Linked DNA regions of Homo sapiens. The protein of the gene in region 1 purifies or fractionates together with the protein of each later gene. This does not show direct contact. Each region holds a gene or a part of one and is shown in the gene's direction. Other genes may lie near its edges.

Region 1 (3,653 bases):
TGTGCTTCTAGCCCTTTTTTAGGACTTGGTGGTAGCAATAGCAGTGGTAGAGAAAAAACGAAGTTCTAATCTATGGTGCTGAATTCTTACCTGAATTGCACTGCTGTCTTAGAGTTGCTTGGCTTGGTATAGTTTGAGTGTTCCCAAATATATGTTATATGGTACTAGTGGCTTTATTCTTGTATAGTATACTTAAGTTTGCTTGTTTTAAATTAGCTTATAGTATTTTCAGAAACCCGTTCTAGAAGTTCATTCTGCTTAAAATGAAATTACTGAAATGTTTGTGCGTGTGTATAGTGTATTTAATTGTTAGCATGGTGGGAAGGTAAAATTAATTTGGCATTGACCTTGAGATTGGGAGTGCAGTGGTGCTGCTTGAAGTCAAAGTTAGTTGTCCTATGGCCATAGCATAGCTGCAATGTATTTTTCAGCATATTTTCTTGGGGTATCTCTTCCTTGCTGACTATAGAACTGTGTAATTTCTTTTGCCACCTGCTTGGAATGTGGTCTTGGCATGATCTGCATATTTTAGTCTCTCTGAAGCATCTGCTCTTCTTCAGGCTACTGAATTTTGACAATTTGATCAGTTTGTCTCATTTAAATATAGACTGTTTTAATGTATATATTTTAAAAGGTTTTCCTATAGGTAGAATACTTGATTTCAGAGAGCCTGGTCATAGTCTGATCATAAAAGAAAATAGTCAAGAAGTCAAACAAATGTAGGAATGAATTTGGTTGAAAGCCTCAGCTGAGTTTAAAGAAGCACATCTAAGCAGAGGTTGATGAACAGGTGTACCCATAAAATAATGTCAGGTGTTATATTAGCCTTTCTTTAGATAATATATTTCACTTCTTCCCTTTACATCAATAGGAGGGTGGGCTTGTGAAGAAGTTCTTTTTTCCCTATGCCCAAGTTTCACAGATGGAAAATTGAACATTGCCAAAGGAATTCTGCTCAGCAGATTAAGTATGTTCATGTTTTAGAATAAAAATTGCCAAAACTTTGTTGAGAAACCACTTATGAGGAAACCTTAAATACTAATTAGGAAGCTAAAAATTGAATATTGGTATATTGGTATAGAATGAATATATATATATATATATATCTTTTTCCAAATTATGACATTCCGTGTAATATGAGTGAATTACTCAGCTCTGCTGATGAGGACTTATGTTGATTATCTAACCTACACAGCCCCATATAGTAGCCACTGGCTGCATGTCACTGTTTAAATTTAAATTAATTAAAATGAAATAAAATTTAGCATTTAGCTCCTCAGGCACACCAACCACATTTCAAGTGCTCAGTACTAGGTGGCTAGTGGCTACTGTATGGACAGTGCAGATACAGAACACTTCTATCATCACAGCAAGTACTACTGGACAAAGCTGATATAGTAAGCATGGTTTTCTTTTCTTAGGAAAACTAAATTTTATTTTTATTAAAAAATCTTTCCTTAGTTCTAAACAGATTTTTTTTGTGAAAGACAAGAAGATTTATTAAAGTTTTATTAAACTATCTCTTAACTCATCACAAAAATGAGCCCTGTAAATTCATACATGCTTCTTGGATGAGTAATGGTGAGGCCAGTAAGCCCAAGAACTTAAATGAACATTCTTATACTTTAGTTTGCATTCTCAGAGCTGGGGAACTGTCTGTAGGCACAGAAGATGGAAAAGGGATTTTCTGGTCTGTTTCTGACTTTAAGTTACACATTTTAAAAAGTACTCTGAAGACACTGGGGTTTGTTCATCCCCGGCTTGCTACTAAAGTAGTAATGATTGTTGTTTTCACATTTTCCTTTTTTTTTTTGAGATGGAGTCTTGCTCTGTTGCCCAGGCCAGAGTGCAATGGTGTAGTCTCAGCTCACTGCAACCTCCGCCTCCCGAGTTCAAGCGATTCTCCTGCCTCAGCCTCCTGAGTAGCTGGGACTACAGGCGTGTGCCACCACACCCAGCTAATTTTTGTATTTTTAGTAGAGATGGGGGTTTCACTATGTTGGCCAGGCTGGTCTCAAACTCCTGACCTTGTGATCCGCCCACGTTGGCCTCCCAGAGTGCTGGGATTATAGGCGTGAGCCATCGCCCCTGGCCTGTTTTCACATTTTCTTTAGTAGGAAGTGCTGTACAGATATCTCACGTTGAGGAAATGCTTTATATTGCCTTTGTCTTAATATTTCAAGGGCAAACCAAAAGAGATACTAGCTTAACTAATGATCCACTTCTGCATGCTTTATTTGGATCTAGGATAAATCAGTACCCCACCCCCCGGAGTTTAAGTGATGATTGGTAAATGTCAGAGAAAGATTTCATACCAAACAAAATGTATTCTATTTATTTAAAATAGTTTATTTTTATTTTCATTTACTTATTTTAATAAAGGAATTGTCATCCAAACACATTTAATTAAAGTCTTAGCCAGGTACAGTGGCTTATGCCTGTAATCTTAACAACTTGGGAAGCCAAGGTGGGAGAATCACATGAGCCCAGGAGTTCGAGGTTACAGTGAGCTGTGATCATGCCACTGCACTCCAATCTGGGCGACAGAGACCTGTCTCAAAAAAAAAAAAAAAAAAAAAAAAAAGAAGACTGTGCATGAAATACTTTAAAAATATTTACTGTTAATAGAAACTCCAGAATTTTTATTTTTATATAGGGTGAGAGAGAGTCATGGGCCAAAGTCTGGCTGGAAGGGAGCTGAAATGCCAGGGGACTTGCTGCCAAGCTGTTTTTACGTAGCAAACAGTTTTCCTTAAATTGGGGCATTATTTGGGGGGGGCTTTAGGGAAAGCTGATGGAGATTACGTTTAGTTACCTCCTGCTCCCCAACTGACAGCTGCCCTGTCTTTCTGGGTTATGTGATTATTTGATAGTGTCCTGCTTTTCGGGGAGGGATACATATTCATTGTGTGACAAAAAGTAATTTTTAGGAATTATTTCTGACTTTGAAATTCTACGGAAAGTTTCAAAAATGTATTTCGAGAGCAATGTCTTGTAACCTTTGAGCCGTAAAACCAATTTAGTATGTGAAGATGAACATTTTAAGAATGTGAAATAAAATAGAATTCAATAGAATATATCAGAAATGCATGTGTTTATACTGAGTGGTGCTTCAGAATGTATTTTTTACTATAAGTGCAGTCAACATTTGAGAGGCATTGTTCTAGTGGAAAGAGCACTGGGATTTTGGAAAACTCTGGGAGTCAGTGGTCTAGCTTTAACTTTAAATCTGTTATCACTGGTAGGGGTGAGATCCTTACCTACTCTGGGCCCACTTGATGGATCTTCCTTATAACCCTAGGGTCTGATTTGTTACCTGATGCTCACAGAGTACTCAGTAAGTGTCTAGTTCTTGAATGATCCTTTTTTATTTTTTTGTGAGACAGTCTCACTCTATTGCCCAGCCTGGAGTACAGTGGCACAGTCTTGGCTCACGACAACCTCTCTCTCTCAGGTTCAAGTGATTCTCATGTGTCAGCCTCCCGAGTAGCTGGGATTACAGGTATCCACCACCGTGCCCGGCTAATTTTGTATTGTTAGTAGAGACAAGGTTTCACCATGTTGGCCAGGCTGGTCTTGAACTCCTGACCTCAAGTGATCCGCCCACCTTGGCTCCCACAGTGCTGGGATTACAGGCGTGGTGAGCCACTGCA
Region 2 (3,653 bases), on another chromosome or scaffold:
ACAGGGCCTGCTATCAACCTGTTTATAGACTCTGCCCTGGGATAGCACCCGGCCTATAAATAGTAGCAAGGCCTTTGTCCCTCAGCTTTCTCTGCTCTTTGTCATGATTTTCTCCTCTTCAAGAAAGAAATTAAATCTGTGTTAAAACAGTCTGTTGTCCTGTAGAGGGCCTCAGATGGTGGGCTTTATTCAAGAATAGCCCTGCCCAGCAGCAACAGAATGCAAGCCACATTACAATGAGTAAAAAGAAGCATGAGAGATTAATTTTAATAGTATCCTTTATTTACCTGAATAAATCTGAATCGTTAACATTTCAACGTATAATCAACCTGAAGTTATTAATTTTGCATTCTTATTTGATGCTAAGTTGTAGAAGTCCAGTGTGTTTTTTGTGCTTACAGCACGACACAGTTTGGGCCCCATTTCAAGGTCCAGTAGCCACAGGCGGCCAGCGGTCTCCACGCTGGACAATGGGCTGTAGATTGTCACTAAAACAGGTGTCCCTGCCCGTTCCCATCCCCCTCTGAGCCACCGTTTCTTGGTCTGAAACGTGCAGGCTCTGCCTCCGAGGCTTCTTCCGGCTGTAAAGATCTGCGATTCCGCGGTGCACGCATGGTTCTGGCCCATCTTCCAGATTGTCTGGTTGAACTCTGTCCAGAGAAAGGCAAATAAAGTAACTTGGCTGAAGCCATGCTGAGAGTCTGTCCTGGGAAATGCTGATGCGGCCCAGGAGATGTGGATGGAGGAGGCAGCCAGTCTGCCACGGCAGAAGCAGCAGCGTGGCCATGGGAGGTCCTTCTTCCAGTGAAAGTTCTGAGTTAGGAAAGGTAGTCCTGAGGAGAGACAGGCTTTTAGGGTTGCCCTCCTCACCTCCAAGTTCCAAATTGTCCAGCTTCCTGTTTTCATGGGATATTAGAAATGCAGATTTATATAAAATATTCCACTTTCTTAAAAGTTTGCAAACAATACATTAAAAAAAAAAGATTTTGAGGGAGCCTGGAGCCATCTGATGGCTCTCTGCACGGTAGCTGGACCCTAGCTTAACCTGAGATTGGCGACGCCTCCTGGAACACCCTCACCCAAAGGCAGGTCAGCACATTTACACTATTCACAGGGGCTCCCCCTCAGTGGGCAGTCCGTGTGTGAGTCATATCGGGCGCTAGGGGCCGCAGGTCCCAGGCAGTCACTCAGCCCCACGCCAGCTTGAGCGGGTTCATATGCAGGCCCGAGAGCCCCTCGCAGGCAGCGTTGGTTGGGAAACTTGTCACTCGGCTTTCTTGCAGCGACAAGGTGTCTACCTGGACATCTCATATTGAAGGCTCTTATTTCCAGTGTCAGCTCTGTAGGAAAAATATCTGTATCTGATCTGTTTTACCTTTTTGACTTGCACGAAGTACTTGGTAACAAGACACTGCCCTTCAGGAGAGAAGCAGCAGCATGCCGGGGCCTCAGCCTGGCCACTCTTTTGTTTTTCTGTACTCTTTGAAATATGCGTGGCTCAAATGCCAGGGATGTAAATAGAAGTAAGTTACCAGAATAAAGATGCTATCAGCGATGTGAACCGGAATCTACAGGCTGAGGCTGAGGCAGGCGTCTGATTAGATGGGCTGAGTGACTCCACGAGACAACAGTGTGCATTTGCACCTGACGCCAGGTGAGATGAGATACTGAGGGTCTGTTACAGCCACTTTTAAATCCATACGATTAAGAAATTTGTGTGAAAGAGTGCCAGAAATGAGGTGAAAAAAATCTAGCTTCCAATTCCAATGAGGTAATTTGTGTAAGTCTGATTTGGAAATGTTTCTCTTTATTACATGTTGAATCTAAAAAAAAAACAAAAACAAAAAAACACGTAAATCCAGACAGAAACCAATTTCAATTCTAAGCTCTCTTACGGGATTCTCTTTGTAAGCTTAGGAGTTATTTGGAGCTGTATGACTTAACATCGATGCATCACTAAGACAAGCTTTCTCTTGCCGATATGTGTATGAGGCACTCCCGGCCTCAGAGCCGAGATCCAGCCCTGTTTCCATGGCCCATGCCAACTCGCAGGTGGAAGGCACAGGTCCCTGAGGGGGCTTTGTCCAGGCTTCCTGCCTAGGCACAGGCTGGATAGGAACTTTCGTGTGACTTTATATCATTCTTACACCCGCGTCTGGAGGGGTGTGACCTCCTCTGGGGAGAAGCAGAGGTGGTCTCTATGTGTTCTGGGAGCTCACTGTTCTGAGACATCCTTCAGAGGCGCATGGCTGAAATGGATCTGACTGTGAATGTCAGCTTAGACCAGGCCATGGAAAGTGCTAGGCTTAAAAACTAACTTTTCTTTGATTTTTTTTAAAACAATGGATGCTGAACTAATTTCGATCTACATGTCAGGAACTATGGAGGGTTTGAGGTCATTCCCCACTTGCAGGCTAACAACGTCGCCTGCCACAGTTTTGCAGATGCTGCAGAAGACGTGAGATGCTGGGCCAGAGACAAGAGACTTGCTGTTCACAGCACAGCAGGCATCATGAGCTGCGTGTGCGCACGGGTTCCCTCTGCTTCTCAAGCCCCCCAGGAGCAGTGGGAGCGGCCCCCTCCGATGCAGTGCATTTGTGTTGTAGCTGAGGAGAACTGGCTTAGGAAACCCCCAGTGTCAAAAGGAGGCTGCTGGCAAATCCCCAGCCTTTGTTACAGAGAGAGATGGTATTGTAATTATCTTAATTATCGAACTCTCCTAGGTTGTTTGCTATACAAACATCCTCAGAAAGAAGGATGACTTATGTCAGAGAAACATATTCTCTATCATACTTGGGGGAATGAACTCCTAAAGCAAGGACTGGTGGCTGCTGAGTAGGATGGAAATGTGCTTCCTTTCCTGTCCCACAGCATCCTGTGACTTTCGTGATCATAACTCACTGTGTGATTTCTTGGTCCTTCTCCTCCAGTGCCCAGAGGAGATGGCATCATGTTTCTGCTGCTTCTCCCAAGTCTCACACAGAACTTAGCATCTAGAGAGATATTTTAAAAGCTTTTGCTGAACAAATTAATGAAAATTCTCACAGTAGAAATTAAGTGATATACATATATATATCTAATATGCACATAGAAAAATTCTGTTCAAAAATGTATATAATGGGAAATGTCTCTACAGACTTCACTGCTGCCAGCCCCAAGTTGCCCCTGGAGAGTTGGGGTGCGCACACGTCCACACGTGGGTAGACCCCGCTTTTCCTTCCAGACACGTGGAAGCTGGCATACTCTTCACACATGTGCTCGGCATCTTGCTTTTCTTTTCTGTTTTGTATTTCAGTGTAACAATGTATTTGGCAACTGTTTTGCATTTGTTCTTATATTCTCTTTAAGAGCTGCTATAGTATTCTAATGTGTTTCTTTAGTCTCTCCCAGGTCCATGGACTTTTAGGTAGCCGACAGTATTTTGCTACTACAAACAATGTTCTAGTGACCGTTTTGTTGGTGGGAATAAAATATTTCACCAGCATTTGAGGGTTAACTTCAAGCCACTCATATAAAATGGGAATCACCATCTCCTATGACCAAATGACACTATTTTAGCCCACTTTCTCATTCCTGTGTCGGTTGTGTCATGTGGGATATGGTTAATCACAACCCATTTTACACCTAACCCCTTCTTGCTTGTTTCTCTTTGT

Evidence for each region. The genes of interacting proteins can lie anywhere in the genome.
Region 2: the proteins of LPGAT1 (region 1) and VIPR2 purify together in Homo sapiens (co-immunoprecipitation; one large-scale study listed by IntAct). This does not show direct contact.

Annotation. Positions count from the first base shown.
Region 1 is NC_000001.11:211,824,120-211,827,772, reverse strand, and holds part of LPGAT1 (acyl-CoA:lysophosphatidylglycerol acyltransferase 1), read left to right. Parts: intron 1-3,653. UniProt on the Homo sapiens protein: Lysophospholipid acyltransferase involved in fatty acyl chain remodeling of glycerophospholipids in the endoplasmic reticulum membrane.
Region 2 is NC_000007.14:159,138,266-159,141,918, reverse strand, and holds part of VIPR2 (vasoactive intestinal polypeptide receptor 2 isoform 1 precursor), read left to right. Parts: intron 1-3,653. UniProt on the Homo sapiens protein: G protein-coupled receptor activated by the neuropeptides vasoactive intestinal peptide (VIP) and pituitary adenylate cyclase-activating polypeptide (ADCYAP1/PACAP).